2 separate regions of the Homo sapiens genome follow, and region 2 is reported to be linked to region 1. The links are microRNA targets in miRTarBase. Many come from high-throughput screens and were not tested one by one. Region 1 holds a microRNA gene; the other region holds the end of a gene's coding sequence.
The links. Region 1 holds the annotated microRNA hsa-miR-4722-3p (ACCUGCCAGCACCUCCCUGCAG, at 5,314-5,335, opposite strand). A microRNA usually pairs through its seed, bases 2 to 8, with sites in the 3' UTR of a target mRNA and lowers its output. Matches are read on the target gene's strand: a 7mer-m8 pairs with bases 2 to 8, a 7mer-A1 pairs with bases 2 to 7 and ends in A, and an 8mer does both.

Region 2: the mRNA of FANCM is a reported target of hsa-miR-4722-3p. The part of its 3' UTR that is shown has no 7-base or 8-base seed match.

What each region holds. Positions count from the first base shown.
Region 1 is chr16:88,710,965-88,719,452 of GRCh38, forward strand. MIR4722 (microRNA 4722) reads right to left here and starts at 5,373; the gene lies at 5,314-5,373. CTU2 (cytosolic thiouridylase subunit 2) reads left to right here. Exons shown (of 15, transcript NM_001012759.3): 5 at 671-731; 6 at 1,310-1,419; 7 at 1,658-1,941; 8 at 2,348-2,483; 9 at 2,683-2,814; 10 at 3,172-3,263; 11 at 3,419-3,522; 12 at 3,623-3,773; 13 at 3,896-3,962; 14 at 4,084-4,142; 15 at 4,218-4,432. The coding sequence ends at 4,287. PIEZO1 (piezo type mechanosensitive ion channel component 1 (Er blood group)) reads right to left here. Exons shown (of 51, transcript NM_001142864.4): 45 at 6,059-6,247; 46 at 5,842-5,934; 47 at 5,595-5,767; 48 at 5,397-5,519; 49 at 5,234-5,313; 50 at 4,969-5,155; 51 at 4,374-4,890. The coding sequence ends at 4,641.
Region 2 is chr14:45,199,203-45,215,083 of GRCh38, forward strand. It overlaps FANCM (FA complementation group M), which reads left to right. Exons shown (of 23, transcript NM_020937.4): 23 at 668-1,688. The coding sequence ends at 806. MIS18BP1 (MIS18 binding protein 1) reads right to left here. Exons shown (of 17, transcript NM_018353.5): 14 at 11,178-11,326; 15 at 6,881-6,968; 16 at 5,197-5,251; 17 at 3,988-5,010. The coding sequence ends at 4,907. Among named protein-coding and RNA genes, the nearest start is that of MIS18BP1, 46 kb to the right of the region's middle.

The DNA of each region.
Region 1 (8,488 bases):
GGCACAGGAGCGGGATGTGCTTGGTTTCTCTGCACTCTCATGAGAGGTGCAGACCGGAGGAGGCTGTTTCTGTGGGCTGGGTGGTTGAGAGGAGAGGGGTCGGCTTTGCCGGGTTGAGGAGTGGGGTGTTGGTCTCAGGATGGGCGCATGGCACAACACTGCTGAAATTAGTTTTCTGTTTTCTGAGGTCCCCTGAACCTGCCAGGAGGGTGTTGTGAGGGAACTGGCCCAGCCCTCTGTGTAACGCTGGTGCTGCCCTTCCTGTGCCCAGCGGCGCCCCTGCCTCTTGCAGGCTGTTGGTTTCTGCTTGTGAGAGCAAGTGCTTCCTTAGTGGTCAGAAGCGTGTGGGATGGTGGCACAGTGGCCCCGTAACCCAGCCCCCTCTCCTGGGGCGTTGTTGGGACATCCAGGACCAGCTGGTGAGGGGCATGTTTTACCAGGGGGATGAAGACCCCCAGGCTACCCTTTAAAATAAGTCGGGCGTGCGGCCTCGCCTACTGGGCCTGCCCGGCACCTGAGTCTGAATGGCTTTGTCCAATAAACGCAATGGCAGGGGAAGACCACTTCACCTTCCAAGATGGCATTAAATCCAGATGAAGAATGTTCTGAGCTGGAAAAGTGTCCTGTGGCTTATGGCTGGGGGCTGAGTCCCTGCTGCTTCTCCCTCTAGGGCCTGAGCCAAGATTCTGCCAAAAGACTGCGCTTTGTGGCAGGAGTCATCTTTGTTGACGGTATGTGGGGCCATTGCTCCTCCTAGTCCCTGGCCACTTGGGGTAAGCCCTGCGGATCCTCCCTCTGGTGTGGACCCTCCCTCTGGTGCCGGTCCTCCCTCTGGTAGGATGTGTTGAGCTACTGGTGCTGCCCCTGCACTGAGGGCCTGGTGGGGACATCTCCCTGAAGGAGGCAGCAGATGTATCCATCGTTAGGTGGCATCACTGTTCCTGGAATCTAAGAACATCCTTAGAAAGTCGGGGGTGGGAGCAGGAGTGGCGGCTGCCCAGCCCCCATCACGGGGTCTGGGGACAAAGAAGGGCAAGTTAAGTGCTGATGGTGAGCGGGGGCCCAGGGGCCGACTCCCCGACCCTTGCTCCTGCAGAACGAACTCCTGGGGTGTTGACTGTAGCGCTGAGGTCAGCCGCAAGAGAGAAACCCCTGCCCAAAGGAAAATGGCCGACACCCCACAGCTCCGCCAGGAAGCACCGCCCTGCGGAGCGAGGCCTCGAAGGGTTTTCCCAGGTGGAGGTGGCCCTGCAGCCTGCCCTGCCTGGCTCCTCTCTGAGCCCTGACTCTTTCTGCCTGGGTTTTTCAGAGGGAGCAGCCTGTGGCCAGAGCCTAGAGGAGAGATCAAAGACCCTGGCCGAAGTGAAGCCCATTCTGCAAGCAACTGGGTTCCCATGGCATGTGGTGGCCTTAGAGGAGGTGGGAGGGCTGTCCCTGGAAAGGGGTCCCGGAGGTGACCCCTGGGGGGCACCTGCCCGTGTCCCAGCCTCACTGGCCTCTCCCTCATCCCAGAAGGCGGGGCTGTCGGTGGGGGGTGGGAGGCACCTGCCCGTGCCCCAGCCTCACTGCCGTCTCCCGCATCCCGGAAGGTGGGGCTGTCTGTGGGGGGCACCTGCCCGTGTCCCGGGCCTCACTGGCGTCTCCCTCATCCCGGAAGGTGTTCAGCCTGCCACCGTCGGTGCTTTGGTGCTCTGCCCAGGAGCTGGTGGGATCCGAGGGGGCCTACAAGGCGGCCGTGGACAGCTTCCTCCAGCAGCAGCATGTGCTGGGGGCCGGGGGTGGTCCTGGCCCGACTCAAGGGGAGGAACAGCCACCCCAGCCCCCGCTGGACCCCCAGAACCTGGCAAGACCGCCTGCCCCTGCCCAGACTGAGGCTCTTTCCCAACTGTTCTGCTCAGTGAGGACACTGACTGCCAAGGAGGAGCTTCTGCAGACCCTGCGGTGAGGCCCCGAGAGCCCCCCTTCCCCGGGCCCTGACCCCCACTCATGCCCCTGAGAGCCCCCTTCCCCGGGCCCTGACCCCCACTCATGCCCCTGAGAGCCCCCCTTCCCCGGGCCCTGACCCCCACTCATGCCCCTGAGAGCCCCCCTTCCCCGGGCCCTGACCCCCACTCATGCCCGAGAGCCCCCTTCCCCGGGCCCTGACCCCCACTCATGCCCCTGAGAGCCCCCCTTCCCCGGGCCCTGACCCCCACTCATACCTGAGAGCCCCCCTTCCCCGGGCCCTGACCCCCACTCATACCCCTGAGAGCCCCCCTTCCCCGGGCCCTGACCCCCACTCATACCCGAGAGCCCCCCTTCCCCGGGTCCTGCACCCCCCAGGCCCCTGAGACGCTCTGTGCTTTAGGACCCACCTGATCCTCCACATGGCCCGAGCCCACGGCTACTCCAAGGTCATGACTGGGGACAGCTGCACACGCTTGGCTATCAAGCTCATGACCAACCTGGCGCTGGGTCGAGGGGCCTTCCTGGCCTGGGATACGGTAGGCAGGGGCCTGGGTGTTCAGGAGGCCCATCCTCACCTTCACCCCTTCGGCCACCTTTACTGGAGAGTAGCCTCTCGCGTATCAGTCCTGCGGCCTCGGATGGTGGTGGGGTCTGTGACCTCCCCTACCTGGCAGGGGAGGAGGGGCAAGCACATTCGGGCCTTGACCTGGACCACACAGCCCCTGCCTCCCGCAGGGCTTCTCGGATGAGCGGCACGGGGACGTGGTGGTGGTGCGGCCCATGCGGGACCACACCCTGAAGGAGGTCGCTTTCTACAACCGCCTGTTCTCCGTTCCTTCTGTCTTCACACCAGCCGTCGACACCAAGGTGGGCCTTGTGGGCTGGGCAACCTCTCTCACCATTGACACCGGGGTGGGCCATGTGGGCTGGGCAGCCTCTCACAGGCTCAGGTCACCAGCACACCTTCAGTGACTCCTGCTGTGGCCCCCAGCAGTGCTGCATCCTCTGAGCCCACCCTGTGCCGTGAGGGTGTGGGGGTGACAGGAGGACCCCACAGTGGGTGCACTGCTGAAGCGGGTTCTCTGGCTGCCTTGAGCAGTCGCAGCAAAGCCAGACCCATGTGGGCCAGCAGCGTGGAACCCACGGCACCTGTCCTGGGGACTCTGCCCCAGCCTGGGGCTGGCCTCTGGGCTTTCCCATAGCCTCCAATCTGATTGTCCCTAGGCCCCTGAAAAGGCCAGCATCCACCGGCTGATGGAGGCCTTCATCCTCAGGCTGCAGACCCAGTTCCCCTCCACTGTCAGCACTGTGTACAGGTGTGGGTGTGTGTGGGTGTGTGCGGGGGGTGCGCGGGTGTGTGCTGTGCGCGGGTGTGTGCGGGTGGTGAGCTCACCACTCGTGCTCAGGCCAGGGCTTAGGGTGGAGCCCCAGCCCGTGTGATTCACCTGCTCCTCCCACAATCCGGCCACAGGACAAGTGAGAAGCTGGTGAAGGGCCCCCGGGATGGCCCTGCTGCTGGCGACTCCGGCCCCCGCTGCCTCCTCTGCATGTGTGCCCTGGACGTCGACGCCGCTGGTCTGTGTTTCATGCTCTTGGGGTGATGCGGGGAGGGAGCCAGGGAGTGGGTGTGGGGGCTCAGCAGCCCCAGGCTCCGTCACCCCCTCTCTGCTTGCAGACAGTGCCACGGCTTTTGGGGCTCAGACCTCCTCGCGTCTCTCCCAGATGCAGTCACCCATCCCCCTGACTGAGACCCGGACACCCCCGGGGCCCTGCTGTTCTCCAGGGGTGGGCTGGGCCCAGCGCTGTGGCCAGGGGGCCTGCAGGAGGTGAGTCCCTGTCCCTGCCACCCATGGCCAGCTGCATGGGGCGGGAGGGGGACCTGTCCTTACCCCACACTGCACGGCATTGAGGTGCCAAGGTGGGCACACAGCCAGCTCTGCTCCCGCAGGGAGGACCCCCAAGCCTGCATTGAGGAGCAGCTGTGCTACAGCTGCCGCGTGAACATGAAGGACTTGGTGAGTACGTGCCCACCTGTCCTGGGCCGGGCTTGGGGACGCGGGAAGGCCGTCACCTCGTGGGTGGCTTGAGGGGGTGCTGGCAGGTTTCTTGGCCCCTCGACACCGGCCTCTGTTGCAGCCCTCACTGGACCCCCTGCCGCCGTACATCCTGGCTGAGGCCCAGCTCCGCACACAGAGGTACTGGGGCCCACACTGCCGTGGCGCGTGGGTAAGGGGCCTCGGGGCTGGTGCCCACTGCAGCTTTCTCTCTAGGGCCTGGGGCTTGCAGGAGATCCGGGACTGTCTGATTGAGGACAGTGACGACGAGGCGGGCCAGAGCTGAGCGTGAGGACGTGCTTGCCGGGACAGCAGGCAGTGGCCACCTGGTACACCACACTGGAGCCGGAAGGCAAGGACGGGGGACTGGCCTCTGATTGTCCATTTGTATAAATAAAACATTTTTTAATTAAAAAAAAAACTCTACAGTACACGTGGGGGACGGCAGCGCCACGCAGGCCGTGGGGACGCAGTGTCCTTCTCTGACAGCAGCATCAGGGCTCAGGCAGGCCGGGAGGATGCATCACAGCTGGCGGCCTTGGACGGGGCAGTGGCTCCCCCGGCCTGAGGAGTGCCGCCCCTTGTGGCCACGCTGCCCAGCAGGCCGGCTCCTTCCCTCTCGGGCGCCAGCAGCAGCTCCTACTCCTTCTCACGAGTCCACTTGATCATGGTCTCCGGTGAGCGGTAGAGGAAGATGAGCTTGGCGTACAACTCCTCCTCCAGCTCCAGCTCCCGAGTCTCCCGCACCAGGAAGATGTCCTGGCAGAGCTTGAGGATGCGGTCCACGCACGGCAGCTCCTCGAACATAATGGAGTGCGAGATCTCGCTGAAGAATCCGCGCACGAACTTGCCGATGACCAGCACGATGGACACGTACAGCCCCATGATGCTGCGGGGGAAGCTGGTGAGTCCTGGGGCCGCCCGGAGCCCCCCGAGCTGCGGGGTGCCCCCCCAGCCACTCACTCACCCGTAGCCAGCCAGGAAGCCGAGGCTCGGTGGGCTGACCTTGTCACTGAAAATGACCATGGGCAGCAGGTTGCAGTCGGTCCGGCACTCCTGCAGCTCGATGACCCACCATTCGAGGAAGCCGGTGGCCCCCGCACCCTGCTCCCTCCGCAGCTGGATACGCACGCCGAGGTAGTCGGCCTCCTCATCTGGGATGGAGGGAGAAGATCGTTGAGGCCGCAGGTCACCCCTCTCTAGCCTCCCCCAACCCCCACGCCCATACTCACTGGGCTGCAGCTGCTTCACAGGGTTGGCTTCGGGCCCGTTGGGGGCACGGATGTACTTGGGGAAGAGATTAGGGATGACCCTGCAGGGAGGTGCTGGCAGGTCAGGCCTGGCCCAGCCAACCTGGCACAGCCCTCCTGCCCACCACCCGGGCCCTTCACTCACACAGACTGGTCCGAGGTGCCCTCGAGCAGGCTGGCCAGCTGCCGCCGTGCAGTGCTGTTGGGGGCCAGGGCCAGCATGTGCTTCTCGTTGGCATACTCCACAGTGCCTCCCTTCGCCAGGTCCCTGGGGGTGGGAACACAGCGTGACCCACTGTAGTGGGTCCACCCACCCAGGCACTGCCCCAAGTCCAGGACGAACCTCTGGAAGTTCCAGGTGAAGCGCAGGGTGATGTCGGCCGTGCCGTTGTAGAGCTCCCGCTTCATCTGGGCACGGCTGGGGGGACTGATGCGCCACAGCGCCCCGGAGCTGCCCTCAATCTGCGCCGTGACGATGTCCTCAGGGCTGTACTGGCTGATGAACTGCATGGCCAGCTGGGTACAAGTGACACCCTCAGTGACTGCAGCCGCCTCCCCACACCAGCTTTCACAGGGCAGAGGCCACTTACCGGCTGGGGGTCAAACTGCCGGGACAGCTCCTCATAGGCCTGGGCCGTGAAGGGGATGATGGACGGCTGCTGGGCGCTCATGGTGAACAGCGGCTGGGGCAGGCACGGGGACACGGGGCCACGAAGATGAGCGTGGAGGAGCGGCTGGGGGTGGTGCACCACCTTGGCCAGAACCCCCAGGGGATGGGAATGGACAGGCGGACCCACACATGCTCACCTCATAGCCGCCCAGCTTCAGGGTGACGGTGACATCGATGGGCTGGTTGACAACCCCAACCACGGAGCGCACCAGCGACATGAAGAGCAGTGGGAACCAGATGATGGCGATGAGGAAGAGGATGATGAGGCCACCCATGCCGTACTTGACGATCTTCTTCTTCTTCTGCCCTTTGGGCTGCGGGTATTTCTGGAGGGGAACGACACAGGTCATACGCTCAGCTCTGCCCTTCCTGCGGGTCACACAACCGCATTCTCCAGCTCACCCAGCAGCCCAGAAAAGCCCCAGCCTGACCTCAGTATGGCACAGCGGTAGTAATGGTGGGCAGACACAGGCCAGTGGAGTAGAACTAAGAGTCCAGTTGGAACCCTCATGTTCAGGGGTCGTTGATCTTAGACAAGGGAGCTGTGACCGTTCAGTGGGAACGGACAACCTTTTTCAACACGGTGCAGGCACCGCCCCAGGCAGGAGAATGAAACGCAACTCCTGCCTCATACCATGTGCCAAAATTTACCTCAAAGTGGATCAAAGAGCGAAACTTCAGAGCTAAAACTATAGAACTTTTAGAAGAAAACGGGCAAATCTTCATGAACCTGGATTTGGCGAAGGAAACAAAGTAAACCAGATATTACCAAAATAAATACTTTGTGCTTCCAAAGACACCAAGAAAATTTAAGAGACAGTCCATAGAATTGGAGAAATTTTCTGCAAATTTTAATTGATAAGGTTCTAGCAACCAGAGAATACAGAGAATTCTTCCAATTCAGTCATTTCTAGCCAATGTATCTGCAGAAAAACAGAAAAAACTCTAATAAAAAACAACCCAACTGCTGGGTGTGGCGGCTCACACTTGTCATCCCAGCACTTTGAGGTCAGGAGTTTGAGACGAACCTGGCCAAAAATACAAAAGACTAGCCAGGCCTGGTGGTGCACACCTGTAGTCCCAGCTACTCGGGAGGCTGAGGTGGGAGAATCGCTTGAACCTGGGAGGCAGAGGCTACAGTGAGTGAAGGTCATGCCACTGCACTTCAGCCTGAGATCCTATCTCAAAAGCCCAACTAAACTATGGAGAAAGGATTTGAATAGACATTTCCCCAGAGAAGATACACAAATGGCCAAGCACATGAAAAGACGCTCAGCGTCGGTCAACAGGGAACTGAGAAGAGCCCACAGCAAGCCACCCGTTCAGCAGCATGGCCAGAACAAAAAAGACATAGTAACAGGTTGTTGAGGATGTGGAGAAACCGCAACCTCGTGTTGGTGGTGGGAACCTTAGATGGTGGAGCTGCTATGGAAAACCAGCAGCTCCTCATGATGGAAACCACCACCAGCACTTCCGGCCCTGGCGTGCAGCCACAGGACCAGGGGCACGGGCACACAGACGTGTACACCGGCGTGCCTGGCAGCATCACGGGCAACAGCCCATCAACAGATGAGCATGTTGTGGTCCATCCATGCCACAGAATATCATTTGCCCATAAACAGGAAGGCCATACTGCCACGTGGGTGGACCTCAGAGACACCATGCTGAGCAAGGAAAGCTGATTACAAAAGGACAAACGCTGTCTGAGCCTGTTTTCATGAAATATCCACTGTAGGCAAATCTCATAGAACCAGGACCTAGACAAGGGGTTACTAGGGGCCAGGGGAGGGGAAACCGAGTGACAGCCAATGGGCACTGGGTTTCTTCTTTTTACTTTTTTAGAGACAGGGTCTCACTCTGTTGCCCAAGCTGGAGTGCAGTGGTGTGATCAGGCTTAATGCAGCCCTGTACTCCTGGCCTCAAGCCATCCTCCCACCTCAGCCTCCAGAGTAGCTGGGAGCACAAGTGTGCACCATCACACCCAGCTAACGTTTATTTTTTTGTAGAGAGAGTCTCACTCACTATGTTGCCCAGGCTGGTCTTAAAACTCCTGGCCTCAACTGATCCTCCTCCTTTGGCCTCCCAAAGTGCTGGGACCATAGGCATGAGCTGCCATTGCCAGCTAATTGTTTTATTTTTACATTTGCTGAGGCAGGGTCTCGCTTGTGGCCGTGCAGATCTTGAACTCCTGGCCTTGAGCAGTACCTCCCTCCTGGGTCTCTTACAGTGCTGGGATGATAGGGGTGAGCCGCTGTGCCCGGCCCGGGGTTTCTTTTTGAAGTGGTGAGAAGGCAGATGCTCAACTGTGAATCCACTAGAAACCCCTGAGTTGTACTTTTTACGTGGGGGAGTGGTCTGACGCACGAATTCTCTCTGAGAAAGGCCATTAAACAAGAATGCAGCAAACAGTGGCTGTCCGGTCCTCCCTGCACCAGGCCCTGCTCTGCTGCCAGCCTGCCTGGAACAGGACCAACTCCGCTGCCCACTTCTGCGCCCAGCACTCACTCGCAGCTGCCAAGATCACTGGCCTCGTGATCAGCTAGTGGGTGGGCTCGCCTCATGTCCCC
Region 2 (15,881 bases), not on the chromosome of region 1:
TGACCTTGCAATCTAACATTTCTGGGCTGTTCAGTTCTGTAACAAGAAAAATGAGTATTTTACTAGTTGTGATCATTATATTGCTTGAAGAGGGAGATTTTAGAATGTAGTTCATTTTAATTAAAGGCCTACATCAGATACTGTCTTAGCTCATGCTGCAATGATAAAATACACAAACAACACAAATTTATTTCTGCCAGTTCTGGATACTGGAAGTCTGAGATCATGGCTGGGTTCTGGAGAGAGCTTTCTACTGAGTCACAGACTACTGCCTTCTCATTGTATCCTCACATGGCAGAAATAGAGCTAGCTAGCTCTTTGACCTCTTCTTAAAAGTGCACAAGGATATCCACCTTTATCAACTAATTCTCAAAGTTGCCACTTCCAAATACCATCACATTGGGATTACGGCTTCAACATATGAATTTTGGGCAACACAAAAACATTCAGTTCATTGAAGATGTTGAAATTGTTATTCTAGATAATTTTAAGGAAAGGAAACAAGTAGCTCTTTTATCCAAACTAATGTTCAAGACATATCAGCTGGGCGGATAATGCTTGAGATGATTTCCTTAAAGGCTACTGTGTTTGGTGTTCTTTAGGTAATATTAAATTTTATAAAAGCCAAAAGTCCTAGTGTAATGATTTTGTCTCATTTATTTTTCAGCTCACTTCAAGAAATCTCCATGTATGCACAAGTAACTCATCAGAAGGCTGAGGAGATCTATAGATATATTCACTATGTATTTGACATACAAATGTTACCAAATGATCTTAACCAAGATAGACTGAAATCTGATATATAATCAAGCTGCTCAAGATGGGGTTTTCAAAGACCTCTCACAATATTAAATGCACTTCAATAATCATTGCTGTTTTATGTTTATTTGTAAATAAGAGAATATTTTATTTAAATATTTTATATTGTATACATTTTTATTTATAGATTATAGAAATTATTAAAAAAGAAAAATCTGATGTTCAGTGATCATTTTGACTAGATTATAAAACTAATTTTTCTTATTAAATAAAACAAGGTTTATTAAAAGTGTTACTAAGGATAGTTTAAGAAAGTAAAAGCTAAGCTAGAGATATACTTTGGAATGTTTCCCAAAATTAAAGTTGTACTGTTGTGATAAATAGTAAAGTTGACATGTCTATGACTACAGCCAACTTGTCGATTTTCCCTATGTGTAGATAGTATACTTTTAAGTGTACTGATTCTAAATACATGTACTTGGTAAGGTGTGGGTGATGGGTGGGTTGTGAGATAAATGACCCAGTAACTAGGAAAGTAGAAAACTTAACTGAATGTTTATCTGACCAAAGGTGTGTCCCAGTTAAGTACTGTCAAATCTATTAATATGAACTCTGATATGGTTTGGCTGTGTCCCCAACCAAAATCTCATCTTGACTTGTAATCTGAATTATAATCCCAATATATTGGGGAGGGACCTCCTGGAACGTGATTAGCTCATGGGGGCGGTTCCCCCATGCTGTTCTAGTGATAGTTCTCAGAGGATCTGATGGTTTTATAAGCTTTTCCTCTGTTCACTCTGCAGTTCTCTTGCCTACTGCCATGTGGAAAAGGAAACGTTTGCTTCCCCTCCACCATGATTGTAAGTTCCCGAGGCCTCCCCAGCCATGCAGGACTGTGAGTCAATTAAACATCTTTTCCTTATAAATTACCCAGTCGGGTTATTTCTTCATAGCAGCGTGAGAATGGACTAATACAAACTCCCAGCTACATTACTCTTTTTTGTTGCTGAAATATATTCAAAATGGTATATTGGTTTGGACTTAGAAAGTTTCTTTTTAATATAAATTACTGAATGCAGGCCCATTATGTTGACCCTATTATATTTACCGTTTTGATCCATTCTGTTGTCTGTGATGGCATTAAGAAGGCTCTGCTTGGGGCCGGGCGCGGTGGCTCACGCCTGTAATCCCAGCACTTGGGGAGGCCGAGGGGGGCGGATCACGAAGTCAGGAGATCAAGAACATCCTGGCTAACACGGTGAAACCCCATCCCGTCTCTACTAAAAATATAAAAAAATTAGCCGGGCATGGTGGCAGACACCTGTAGTCCCAGCTACTCAGGAGGCTGAGGCAGGAGCATGGCGTGAACCCGGGAGGCGGAGCTTCCAGTGAGCTGAGATCGTGCCACTGCACTCCAGCCTGGGCGATAGAGCCAGACTCTATCTCAAAAACAAACAAAAACAAACACAAACCAAAAAAGAAGGCTTTTCTTGTATCTGCAATATATATGACATCTTTCTTCTAGTCAGTCTAGTACTAAAGCAGCCTTGAATTATGTGAGTCCTTTATTCTCGGCCTCATTTTTACCCCTATTACATTGTTGGGTAGTTGAACCAGCCTCACTGCAGAGCTCTCCTCACCTTAAATCTGGCGGGGACTTCAGAGCTCATGTAATTCAAATCACTTCTCTTTCCTTTCTTACCAAATGATAAAAGTGATGCCCAGAAACAAGTGACTTATTCAAGTTTAGACTGGCAAATCTAGAAGCAGAACTCACAAACTAGGTATCATTCTCTTTCACTCTATGGTGTTGATAAAAGGGGACAAAAAAGTTACTCTAATTGTTTAGCTCCTTTGAGATAGTATCAACTCTCAATTTGTATGAAAGCAGCTGACTTATGTATGCTGCTCAATAATTCTGTCAAAACCACAGAGAGGAAACACTAAGTTATTGCCTAGTGTGCAGTTATCAGTTTATTATAACTGGACTTTTTGAGTATTTCTCCTTTAGTAGTGAGCACAATGCTAAGCTGTGACAGGAGGAAAGGAGCCTCTTTGTGGTTCCACTGTGCTACATCTTCATGTATCTTGCTCCTGCCACATTGTCAGCAGGGCCTGTGGGTAGGGACATCTGGTGGTGCTTTGCCCCAGCTGCATGCCAGAATCATGCAGTCCCTCAACAACCTCACACAGAGATACCACCACCTGCTCAGACTCAGCTGTGTGTGCACCCGTCAGACAAAAAAAAGTACATAAATTAACATGGTGTTACAGACATAACCTAGAGGATTTCATTTATTTATGCTTGCTGTATGGAGAGCTCTATCCATATTTAGGCTTGCAATAGCCTCCTCCTATATCCTCATTGGTAGCCATTAACCATTCATTATCCATCTTATTATTTAAGTCCTTAAGGTCTTTTTTCTTTTCCACTTTTAAGTTTCCTTTGGGGGTTACTTACCTTAAACCTTATCATTAGTTCATCTTATGACCTGATAGAAATAGGACAAGCCAGGTACCTGGCCGGTGAGATACCTTAGTATAGGGAAGGCGCTGAAGTTCTGATACGGATATATGGGCAGTAGGGGTCAAACTCAAGTTTATGCCATTTCAATTACCTTTTTACTTTTTGTTAAGGGATTTAACCACTTTCTTAACTCCTAAAACACTATCCATTAACTTCAAGCAGTATAGCATTAGATCAAATATTGGCAACTCAAGTTCTGCAACGGCATTTTTTTTGGCCACTCCAAAATAACCCTTTCTTTTGATCCATTCTATATCCACCAAGGGTCTTTATGGCAGAAATAATCATGGTAGTTTAAAGAAAGAATTATCTTAGTCCAATTGCACTGTTCTTTTTACAGTGTTTCCGTAAGTCCTATAATTATATAACTGCTGATTATTACTATTTTATTTTATTTATTTATTTATTTTAAAAGGAGTCTCTGTTACCCAGGCTAGGGTGCAGTGGCCAGTTGCAGGCATGATCATAGCACAGTTCAGCCTTGAACTCCTGGGCTCAAGCTATCCTCCTTCCTCAGCCTCCCAGGTAGTTGAGACTACAGATACATGACACCATGCCTGCTCTGACTAAAACACTTAAGAAACAAGAAAATGTTATTAATCATTTTTTTTTTTTTTGAGGAAACTTAAACAGGACCAGTCATGATTTGTTTTTATTTCTATCATCCAGTAATTAGTAACAAACAAAAAACAAGAAACAAATACTATAAAAGCAAACTAACTTTATTTGAATAATCTAAATAGAGAACAAGGGTAGGTGAATGTGTAGCCAGAGGGAAAATATCCTATGTCAAGTTTCAAAACATAACAAGCAAAAATAAGTTTATTTCTAAAAGAAATTTCAGTGAAAGAAAAAGGATGTTTATTATGACATAATATATTGATTCCTAATGGTGGATCTATTAACTGTTTGTCTAATCTAGTCAAAATATTTAAGCTGTTTCTGCATATGTAAATAAGGCTTAAAAATTAGAGAACAAAATCTGTTCTCTAATTTTACCTAGTAAAATAATGGTAAAGCAATAAACTAAATTTACAAAGGTTTCATAGATATGCCTATCACAAGTTTAAAATAAAAACAATCAGGAGAGAAGCATGTCAACAATGTGTAATTTAATTTCAACAATGTGTAATTTAAACATTAGGTTTGGATAACAACTGGTAACAAATCCTACTCTGGCTTGGATAATAACTGCTAACAAATGCTAACTTAAAAGTTTTCATGAATTCAATAGCTACCAATACAACCTCTGTCATCCTTCTCACCTTCTCTTACTTAAATGGTAGCAAAATTTTCTTGAAATAAAAAAAAATCTGTTTGGGAAATGGTTTTCTTAAAGTAAACAGACTTGGATGCTTATTAAAAAATTATCTATATATATTTTAATATGCAAAAACAAATTTACAGATATCTACACGAGCAAAAACAATTTTCTTTACATTTTTAGTAAGCTGCAGCAATGAGGATATTTTACTTTGAACACAAACATATGAAACCTTCAAAAAAGTCCACATTTTCATAGGAAGCTACTTTACAAAGAAAATACATGTACTCCAGTTGAAAATACAAACACTGTCTGCTTTATGGTAAAAATCCCAGGAATCATATTTTCTCATTTTACTATGCAGAATCAGAGTTCGAAAAATAATAATCTTTCTCTTCTTCATCTAAAGATTCCACAGCATTAGTGAAAAGTTTTCCAATACCAGAGTTTTCTCCTAAGTCTGTAAAGAGAAGTTTAATAAAAAGATAATAAATTTCTAAAAGTACTTTCAATAAAACTGAAAACAACTATAAGGAATAAAATGCTAAGTCTGTCCACTTGAGAGCAATTAATTTTAATACCATTTAAATAAAGAACCTACCTTATAATAGAACTGAGCCACAAAAGAAAGCTGTAAGTGTATTACCTGTGTTAAATGGGGTTTTCCTTCTTGGTGTTGGAGTTGAGAAATCAGTTTCAACCTATAAAAGAGTTACTATTAATAGCTAAATGGTACCTCCTGGTGAAGTCTACCTCAAATCTAGACAAAATTAAGCATGCTTATCCCCAGATTACTTTGAACATATGCCTATAACAACATTTAATCACATTATAATTATCTGTGAAATGCATAATTCTCTTTTGGGTTTATCCAGGGCAAGAACCATGACTTACTCAATGTTGTTTCCCAGTGCTGGCAAACACTCCTCTAAGAAATTATTATAAACTAATGCTATAGCAGTTAAAGGATAGTCTATGGGCCTCCAAAAGTTGCCAAAATGTGCTAAGTAATTAAGTAATGAATATACTGGTTTGGTAAACTTAAAATATAAACACAATTTATCATGATTATATATAGTAATTATAATTACAATACTATACTGTACTATTACAGTATAGTAATTACTATACAGAATACTAATTACTGTATTACTTTTACCTACAGTCTGTTATTATAACAGTACAATGTTTTATACCAGCAGAATTTTAATTCTCTGTACTTGAAATTCTTGGCTAAAATGGTAAAGTAAATGGCAAGTTTGAAGTACATGCTCACACACATTACAATGCTTATCAAACTATTGGCCATGGCTGGCAATCCTTAAAAATCTTTTAAAAATAAAAAGTAACAGAACAGAAAATATAGTAGCCCTTAGAGTAAGTACTGTTTTAAGAAATTTTTGAGATACAAATTCATGCTCACAGACTGTGATATAAATGTATTTTTTTCTGAGATGAGGTAAAACACTGCATTATATCATTTAGACCTCAAAATCATTTGGTAACATAAATCAATATAATCATGATCCCCATTGTCATACCACACATGAATAAAATGGTATTAGAAAGCTCAAGTAACTTGCTCAGTGTCATAAAGCAAGGGAATCAAGGGGGTTCCCATAAGTTACCATTCTCGAAGATTAGCTACTTAGAGGAAATTTGAGATGAAATACTTTTTCCAGAATCCTAGTACTTATATATGATAATCAGTTATTGCAATTAAAATCAGAAAATTAAAAATTTAAAAAGTAATTCAAGGGGATAAAGGACTGTCCTAATCTTTTCTCTAAGGGATATAGATCATTCTATTAAGGCATCTTTCAGTTAAAAATTTTTCTGTAGTTGGATTTTAAATGTTAGAATGTAAAAAAATAAAAAGTAAAAAAATAAAATTAAGTAGCTAAATCTGAAAAACACCTGAAGCCATTTTAAAGCTACATAGAATTTGATGAAATTTCTTACTTTATGAGAATTGTGACTCAGTCTGAATTATTCTTCAATCCTTGAACAGGATTGTTTTTGTGTTTTGTGTTTTTGTGTTTTGCCTGAAATATCCTTCCCAGACCTCTGTGTATATTTTTCCCACCCTTCATTTCCCAAAAATCAAAGTTTTTAGCCATTTTCCCCTTGCTCCAATGTTTCAGTCAATGTGATGCCATCTGTAATCCTACAGTACTTATGTGCTTACCTCATTCATGGCTTCATTATTGTAACTTGTTACATTATAATCACCTCAGGGACAGGGACTGTTACATGACTTACAACTACCACAGTTTATCACATATTAAAGTTGTTTCATAGATATGTATTGGATAAAGAAAAATACTTACTAATTTTTTCTTGATGTTGCCCCAGACAATACCACCATTACTTTTATGATATTTTTGCATACGAAAAACATATTTATCACAGTCATTCCTGTTTGAATACGAAATAATTTTAAGTCAACAATATTTTTAAGTCAACCTAATAATTTTAAGTTAACTGTCATACTTTTAACCACAGGTTGAACAACAATTGCCTAAATTAATTTCAAATGTATTTCTTTTTTTGAAACAGGGTCTCACTCTGTCGCCCAGGCTGGAGTGCAGTAACATGATAATGGCTCACTGCAGCCTCAACCTCCTGGGCTCAAGTGATCCTCCCAACTCAGCCTCCCAAGTAGCTTGGACTACAGGCACGTGCCATCATGCCTGGCTAATCTTTGTATTTTTCTTAAGAGACAGGGTTTCACCACATTGCCCAGGCTGGTTTCAAACTACTGAGCTCATCAAGCAATCTGCCCTCCTGGGCCTCCCAAAGTGTTGGGATGACAGTCGTGAGCCACCACGCCTGACCTCAAACGTATTTCCATCTTTAAAAAGTACATTCTGTATTTTAAAGAGGACAATAAAATGTGCCTATGGAGATGGACAAAATGCTTAAATCAAACATTTTACAGGAAATACTGATCAAGACTATTTTGGGAAATTATGCTTTGCTTACCGTTCATTGTACCGTCTACGCTCTTTCCGGTATCTTGCTGCCTCTCTTGGTTTTCCAAAACTCCCACTGAGACTTCTTCTCCTTGGACTCCCTTTTGCTATACCATTATCTCTCCTGTTCACTTCCTTCCCTGTCCTAATTGAATCTCAGTTTATTCACTTTAAAGATATGCCTGGTGATTGAAAACTGTCAATTTTTCCAACTGTGCTGGGTTTCTAATCCAGCTCATCAAGCCTTTTATTTCTACAAAATTTTATCTTTCTTGAATTCCCCATACCAACCACCAAATTTTTTTTCTTTATTTCATTTCCTTTACCTTATCTCTTCCCTTACAAGCAAATATGCTTCACTCATAACTGAAGAGATTAAAAGCCAAGTAGAATTGTTGGTTGTTTTTAATTCCCTAAACCCACAATTCCTAATCCCACTTATGACAGTAAATACCAGCTGAACATCCATTTCCATACTCTCTCTTGGCTCTAAGATCTTACATACCTGAGTATCCTCTGTTCTTTATGACTATTTGGGAACAACCTTAAAGGCATGACATGAAGAAATGTGACTCTATTAAGATATTTATCTGAATCAAACACTGCTGTATAGCAATGAATAAACCTCGTCAGTTTTTAGCAAATTGCTTAACAAATGAACAGGTGTGATCCCAGCACTTTGGGAGGCTGAGGCTGGCGGATTACCTGAAGTCAGGAGTTCAAGACCAGCCTGGCCAACATGGTGAAACCCCATCTCTGCTAAAAATACAAAAATTAGCCAGGCACGGTGGCATGCGCCTGTAATCCCTGCTACTTGGGAGGCTGAGGCATGAGAATTGCTTGAACCTGGTAGATGGAGGCGGTAGTGAGCCGAGATTGTGCCACTGCTCTCCAACCTGAGCAACTCCATCTCACAAACAAACAAAAAACAAATGAACAGGCCTAGCCAGTTGTTCAGGATCAGCAACTGGTAAGTCTATTATCAAAGAGATGTCTTTGAAGACAAAGAGTTTTTCACTTCTGAAGTGATATAACTGTTTGATTACTTAAAACTGTTATGAAAAGTACGTCAATTACTAGAGCTAGTAAAGTCAGAGAGAGTGAAGAAGCCTAAGAAAATCATTTTTTTAAGAAAAAAGTTTCAGACAATATAGATTCATAACATAAGTGAATCTATCGTGTTTCTTTAATTGTAAAAGTGACATAAATGGACAGAAAATATCCCCCAAAACAAAAAACAAAAACCCACAACCCACACTGGTGTCATTCTACAACCTAGAAAGAATGGCTGGTGATGTGTAAGTTAAGAAATTTCCTTCCTTACGAATTTGTTACATAAAATTGGGATCATGCTGAATGTAGTTTTCCTAGCTTTTGAAAACTACTATCCACTGGACATTTTTCTGTCATTAAATTCTTGAAGACATGATTTGTTTCATATTCCATTATATGGATAAATCTTAATTTATAACTTTCCTTATTTTTGGATGTTTTGGTCATTCTCAAACTTTCAGTATTATGTTTTATGATGAACATCTGTGTTCCAAATCTCATATTTCCTTAAAGTGTCTAATAAAATTCAACGGCCAAAAGGATGAAGTTGTTTTTTTTTTTTTTTTTTTGGAGACGGAGTCTCGCACTGTCACCCAGGCTGGAGTGCAATGGCGTGATCTCGGCTCACTGCAACCTCTGCCTCCCGGGTTCAGGTGATTCTCCTGCCTCAGCCTTCTGAGTAGCTAGGATTACAGACACACACCACCACATCCGGCTAATTTTTTGTATTTTTAGTAGAGATGGGGTTTCACTATGTTGGCCAGACTGGTCTCGAACTTCTGACCTTGTGATCCGTCGGCCTCAGCCTCCCAAAGTGCTGGGATTACAGGTGTGAGCTACCGCGCCCGGCCACGGATGAATATTTTAAGGCTTTTGATGAACTGGTCAAAGTGCTTATCAAAAAATTTGTCCAAAATAGTATTCTCAGTATGCTTTCCCCTGCACTAAATACTAAAAATAATTTTTAGATGCCTAGGAAAATTATATTTTTATCCAATAAGTGCAAATTAAAATTTTAGCAATTTAGCAAGCTTCCTGAGAGTACTGAATAGTTTTTTTCTCAGTCACTATTATCTTGCTTCTGCCTCTCATTCTGTGGAAATTGCTCTAAGATCAGCAATGGCCTCTTACTTGCCAAATGGAATAGCCTATTTTCAGGCCTCATTCTTACTATTTTCCATCTTTTTTTGGTGACATTTTATTGTTAGTCACCCCTACTTTTTTCTTAATTTTATTTATTTATATGTTTCAAATTGTTCTTGTATTCACATGGTTCAAAATTCAAAAGCCCCCCTCTCCTTCCTCCAGCTACCTTAGTTCTCCCTAAGGATCACCAATGTTTTGGTTTCTTATGCATCCTTTTATAAAGACTTAATCTAATAAAAGCAATTATACACACACACACACACACAAGTATATACATATATGCATACATACATATAGCTTCTATTTACACAAACAGTAGTATATTATTCACTGCATCTACCTTTGTTTCATTTAATATATCTTAGGCATTTTATCATAATAGCAATAAAAAATATCTTCATTAATTTCTTTTTTTTTTGAGACAGGATCTCACTCTGTTGCCCAGGATGGAGTGCAATTGTTGCAATCACAGCTCACTGCAGCCTACACCTCTGGGACTCAAGCAATCCTTCTACATCAGCCTCCCTAGTAGCTAGGGCCACAGGCTTGCCCCACTGCATCCTGCTAACATTTTTGGGTTTTTTTTGTAGAAATGGGGTCTTCCTATGTTGCCCATGCTGGTCTTGAACTCCTGGGCTCAAGTGATCCTCCCAAAGTGCTGGGATTACAGGCTTCAGCCACTGTGCCTGGCTCTTCATTAATTTCTATGACTATATAATGGACCAGAGTTCATTTAATTAGTCCCTACTGATAGATTTTTGAGGTACTGCCATTTAAACAATGCTACAATGAATAAGCTGTACATTCACAATTCTATAAGTAAAATTCCTAAGTCAAAGGGCATGTGCATTTATAATTTTGATACTTACAAATTGTTGCTGCAAAGATCGCACTACTTTACCTTCTCACTAGCAATGCACAAAAATTAACAATGCATTCCTTGTTAGTTTGTAGGAATGCTGTATATATTACGGAAATTAGCCTTTTGCCTGTGACAAGTTGCATATATTCTTTTCTCAGGTTGTCTTTTGTTTGTAGTGGTTGGTACCAGGTAAAATTTGTTAAACATTTTTACACAGTTGACTTTATTCATCTTTTCATTAATGGCTTGTAGGTTTTATAGTATAGTTAGAAAGACCATCACTAATCTGGTATTATAAAATAATTCTCCAAGGTTTCTTTAGTTTTTTTTTTTTAAAGTTTTTTACAAGTAAAACCTTGATCCATTTCGAATTGATCCAGAAGTAAATGTGGGTTATATCACAATGCTGTTTATTGAATAGCACCCCGATTTGATGAACTTGTCCATCCTTAACTTCTAGAAACTACACATTCTTGATTTTTTAAATAATGCCTCTTCCCATTACTGGCATCTATGGTCCTCATGAAATGTTTAAATGTTCCTCACTACTCTGATGCAGAGAATTAACATATCATATGCATGAATATTTACCTATTTATAGAACCTAGCATGCCAGGACTGACATGCTGACATTGAGGAGTTTTTACCAATGGAAAGATAACTGATGATGGAGTTGTTGGATTTTTGTCCATATTTGGCAGAATATCATCATCATCTTCACTGTCCTGGAAACTTGGCAACTAGAAAACAAGTATTTATTATCAGCAGGCACCCCATAAAAGGTATTTTCTCATTATCACAAAATAGTTTTGGAGGACTGATAAGTTGGTTCTTCTTGTAACTTTCCAAGTTAGATAATTAAAAACAGTAGTACGTAGAGGAGTAGAGGCTAGAGGAACTCCATTTTAGATGCTAATTCACCATGCTGACTTCTGATTAAACCTGGATCTGGAAATGCCTCTAAGATTTCTACCTCCATATACTTACTGGAAATCTTGTCCTTAGGTCAAAACAACCTTGGTGTTATCGTAAACACATACTTACCATAAATACAGCCCTTAGGCAAATTCCCTATGGTATATAAACCCTGGGTCTGGGGGGATAACAGTGCCCAAATCCACCATCTTGAGGCCACCCAAGAGATGGCTTCTGCTCAAAAGTCTCTATTAAATGTTTCTGAGAAACTGGATTTGTCACCCTCTTTATTCAGCCTGTAACCGAGTAGCGTGGCTTCAAACCATGTTTTAAAACTTTTTTCTTTCTTTCTCCCCAATTTTAAGATATAACTTTGAGATAAACTACATGTGTTTCCATTCATCTTGAAATACAGCCTCAAAATGTGAACCTCCGTTTCTTTACCCATTCTATGCTCCCATGCCTTATGCACATGTTTTTACCTAGACGCTTTTTAAGTGCACACCATGCTCATTTATCTGGTCATGTATTTCCTTAGAAGCTTCAGGGGCCGGATCCTGGCATAAACTGGATACCTCCAGAATTCTCTCCCCAGTCAAGGCCAAAACTCACTCCCATCTAGAAATTTACTGCAAGATTTACTACAATTAATTTGTAACCTGGTTGAGCCCAGGATGGTGCTGGCCCCTTCACCAAATGGAATAATATTTCAAGATAAGCTGTTGGAGCAGATTGAGCCACCTAACACCTCCTAACCCCCTCCTCTCCTGCATTCCAAATCATTCTCTCTTTAAAAACTCCTATGTTCACTCCACAAATTGAAGACTGGAATTTCTGGAATTTCACCCACACTTCCCTTTGCTGGCACAGATAATAAAACTCTATCACACCTTGCTCTTGTTATATTGGCTTCTTTTTACAAGCGGCAAGTAGTTGGACCCCTATTGCTGGTTACAATTTTTGGTGGCCCATACAGGGAGCCCTGTGTATTCACAGGAGGCTCCAGACACACCTATCTGATCTTCTGTTGGATAGGGCCATGGAGCCACCTGTGAGTGCCAGCTGCTCATGGCTAGCTGACCCTGTAGTAAGAACATTAGGGGAGCTTCCAGCAATAGCCAAGGTGCCTTTGTCTTGCAGAACCTCCTTTTCTATTTCTGTCACAGCATCTGCTGCTTCCAAAGCTTCACTGATACAAAGAGAATGTGACATTTTGAAGAAGTCGACAAATGTTGGAACCAGGTGAGCTGCTGATGTGCACCCAGCCTCCCTCTGCCTCTTTTAGGGTGTTGCTGGGGCTCTGCTCTGTTTAGACTTAGCTGTTGGTGTCACCATTTGGCCATTTTTTTGCATTTGTATTTGTGGCACCCTCAGGGCTTTGCTCACATTGGACTGTCCCCTGGGGAGGGCCGTTTGAAACTGAGGCAAGGAGTTTGGAACTCTACCCAGCCCTCTTAACTGGGGATTTGTTTGGAGGCAGTGCACCATTTGTTTGCAGTGTAGGTGTGTAACCTTAATGTGTGTATGGGCCCTAATCTCTCTCTCTCTTCCTCCATCTTTTCTATTCCTCCCAGCTCCATCCCACTGACTAAATTGGAAACAAGCCATCTACAGCCTAAACTCCCCTGGGCCATAAACACCGTTAGCTTCCTCCAGCTGGAAATAGCTAACCTTGACTGGTGACTTGCAGAAGTGGGAATGTTACAGCAGGTTAACTAGTCAGGGATAAGCAAGGAATGAGAGGGCCTCCCCACCCCCCACCAGGAATGTTGTTAGGCGACCATCCTGTGATGGTCAGGTGGTTGTTAACTGTGTCTCTAAAATAATACTTAATCGCAGCCAGCACCAGGGAAAAGCAATCTCTCAATAAACAGAAACACCTAAAATTGGTGATCAGCAGCTTCCTCATAAGATCTCAGAAACTGGGCAAGTGGGCTCAAGCATGTGCATTAAGAGGAAAAATGGAGGAGTTTAACTGGTATATGACCTCCTAAGGACATCCGACTGGTAAGGGAGAAAGCCTCAAGTGAGCCTGTGTATAAATCCAGTAAACACACTGTAACTTGCTCCCCTCCCAAGTGCTAGCACGCCACTGGGCATGCAGACAGCCCGCCCCAAGGTTAGAATCCGGGGAGAAGGAACACAAGACCCCCAGAAGCATGCCAACATATAAAACCCCAAGTCACAAAGTTAAACCATGCTTCAAGTCACCTGCTTGGCCCTCTTCTGAGAGTACTTTCTTTCCTTTGCTTCCTGCTTTAAAGTGTTTTAATAAACTTTCATTCCTGCACTAAAACTTGCCTCAGTTTCTCCTTCTGCCTTATGTTTCCTTGGTCAAATTCTCTTTTTAAAAAATTTTTATAAGTATTATTTAACAAAAAATGGAGACGGAGTCTCCCTATATTGCCCAGGCTGGTCTTAAGCTCCTAGGCTCAAGGGATCCTCCTACCTCGGCCTCCCAAAGTGCTGGGACTACAGGCATAAGCCAGCACACCCGGCCAGAATTGTTTCTTCTGAGGAGGTAAGAATTGTGGTTTCTGCAGACCCGTATGGATTTGCTGCCAGTAACAGGAGGGATTCATCCTACACTGTATAGGTCTAAGGTGCTGAGGCTCTCCCTGACAGAAGATAAACAAGAATGATGGGGGTCTGCAGGTTGCACAGGTTTAGGCTATGTCTGTTAGAAATTTTAAGGTCAAGGAACAAGGACAAGGACAGAGCCTTAGCCTTTAAAAGACTTAATTTCTCTTGTGTAAAACAGAGATAATAACACCTATTTCTGAAGGTTATGTAGACCAGAGGTCAGCAAATGTTTTCTGTAAATAATCAGATAGGGAATATTTTAGGTTTTGTGGTCCAGTCTCTGTCCTAACTACTCAACTCTGCACCGTAGCATGAAAGTAGCCATAGACAATATACAAACAAATCTGACCCTTCGTATCAACAGAACAAAACAAAACTCTAATTCACTTACTATTATGCTTAGCCGTTAGTAGGAACCCAAGCAGTGTTAACCATTGTGGGGAAAAGAAAGAGAGATCAGACTGTTACTGTGTCTATGCAGAGAGAAGTAGACATAAGAGATTTCATTTTGTTCTGTACTAAAAAATTCTTCTGCCTTGAGATGCTGTTAATCTGTAACCTTAGCCCCAATCCTGTGCTCACAGAGACATGTGCTGTGTTGACTCAAGGTTTAATGGATTTAGGGCTATGCAGAATGTGCTTTGCTAAAAAAGTGCTTGAAGGCAGTATGCTTGTTAAAAGTCATCACCATTCTCTAATCTCAAGTACCCAGGGACACAATACACTGCAGAAGGCCACAGGGACCTCTGCCTAGGAAAACCAGGTATTGTCCAAGGTTTCTCCCCATGTGATAGCCTGAGATATGGCCTCGTGGGAAGGGAAAGACCTTACTGTCCCCCAGCCCCACACCCATAAAGGGTCTGTTTTGAGGAGAATTAGTAAAATAGGAAGTCCTCTTTGCAGTTGAGATAAGAGGAAGGTATCTGTCTCCTGCTCGTCCCTGGGCAATAGAATATCTCAGTGTAAAACCCGACTGTATGTTCTATTTACTGAGATAGGAGAAAACCGCCTTAAGGCTGGAGGTGAGACATGCTAGTGGCAATACTGCTCTTTAATGCACTATATGTGCACATCAAGGCACAGCACCTTTTCTTAACCTTGTTTATGACACAGAGACCTTTGTTTACATGTTTTCCTGCTGACCCTCTCCCCACTATTACCCTACTGTCCTGCCATATCCCCCTCTCTGAGATGGTAGAGATAATGATCAATAAATACTGAGGGAACTCAGAGACCAGGGGCGCCGCCCGGGGCCTCAGCAGGGGGCCTTGTATGCTGAGTGCCGGTCCCCTGGGCCCACTTTTGTTTCTCTATACTTTGTCTCTGTGTCTCTTTCTTTTCCCAGTCTGTCGTCCCACCTGTCGAGAAATGCCCACAGGTGTGGAGGGGCAGGCCACCCCTTCAAACTATGTCACAGAAAATGATATAATTTGTTGCTGTCTATTTCTACTTTAGTTCTGTTCTTTACATTTTTATTTTTTTGAGATGGAGTTTCGCTCTTGTTGCCCAGGCTGGAGTGCAATGGTGCCTTCTCAGCTCACTGCAACCTCCCACTCCTGGGTTCAAGCGATTATCTCACCTCAGCATCCCCAGTAGCTGGGATTACAGGTGCCCACCACCATGCCAGCTAATTTTTGTATTTTTAGTAGAGACGGGGTTTCACCATGTTGGCCAGACTGGTCGCAAACTCCTGATCTCAGGTGATCTGCCCACCTTGGCCTCCCAAAGTGCTGGGATTACAGGCGTGAGCCACCATGCCCGGCAGTTCTGTTCTTTATGATGCTACTATTGCATTTA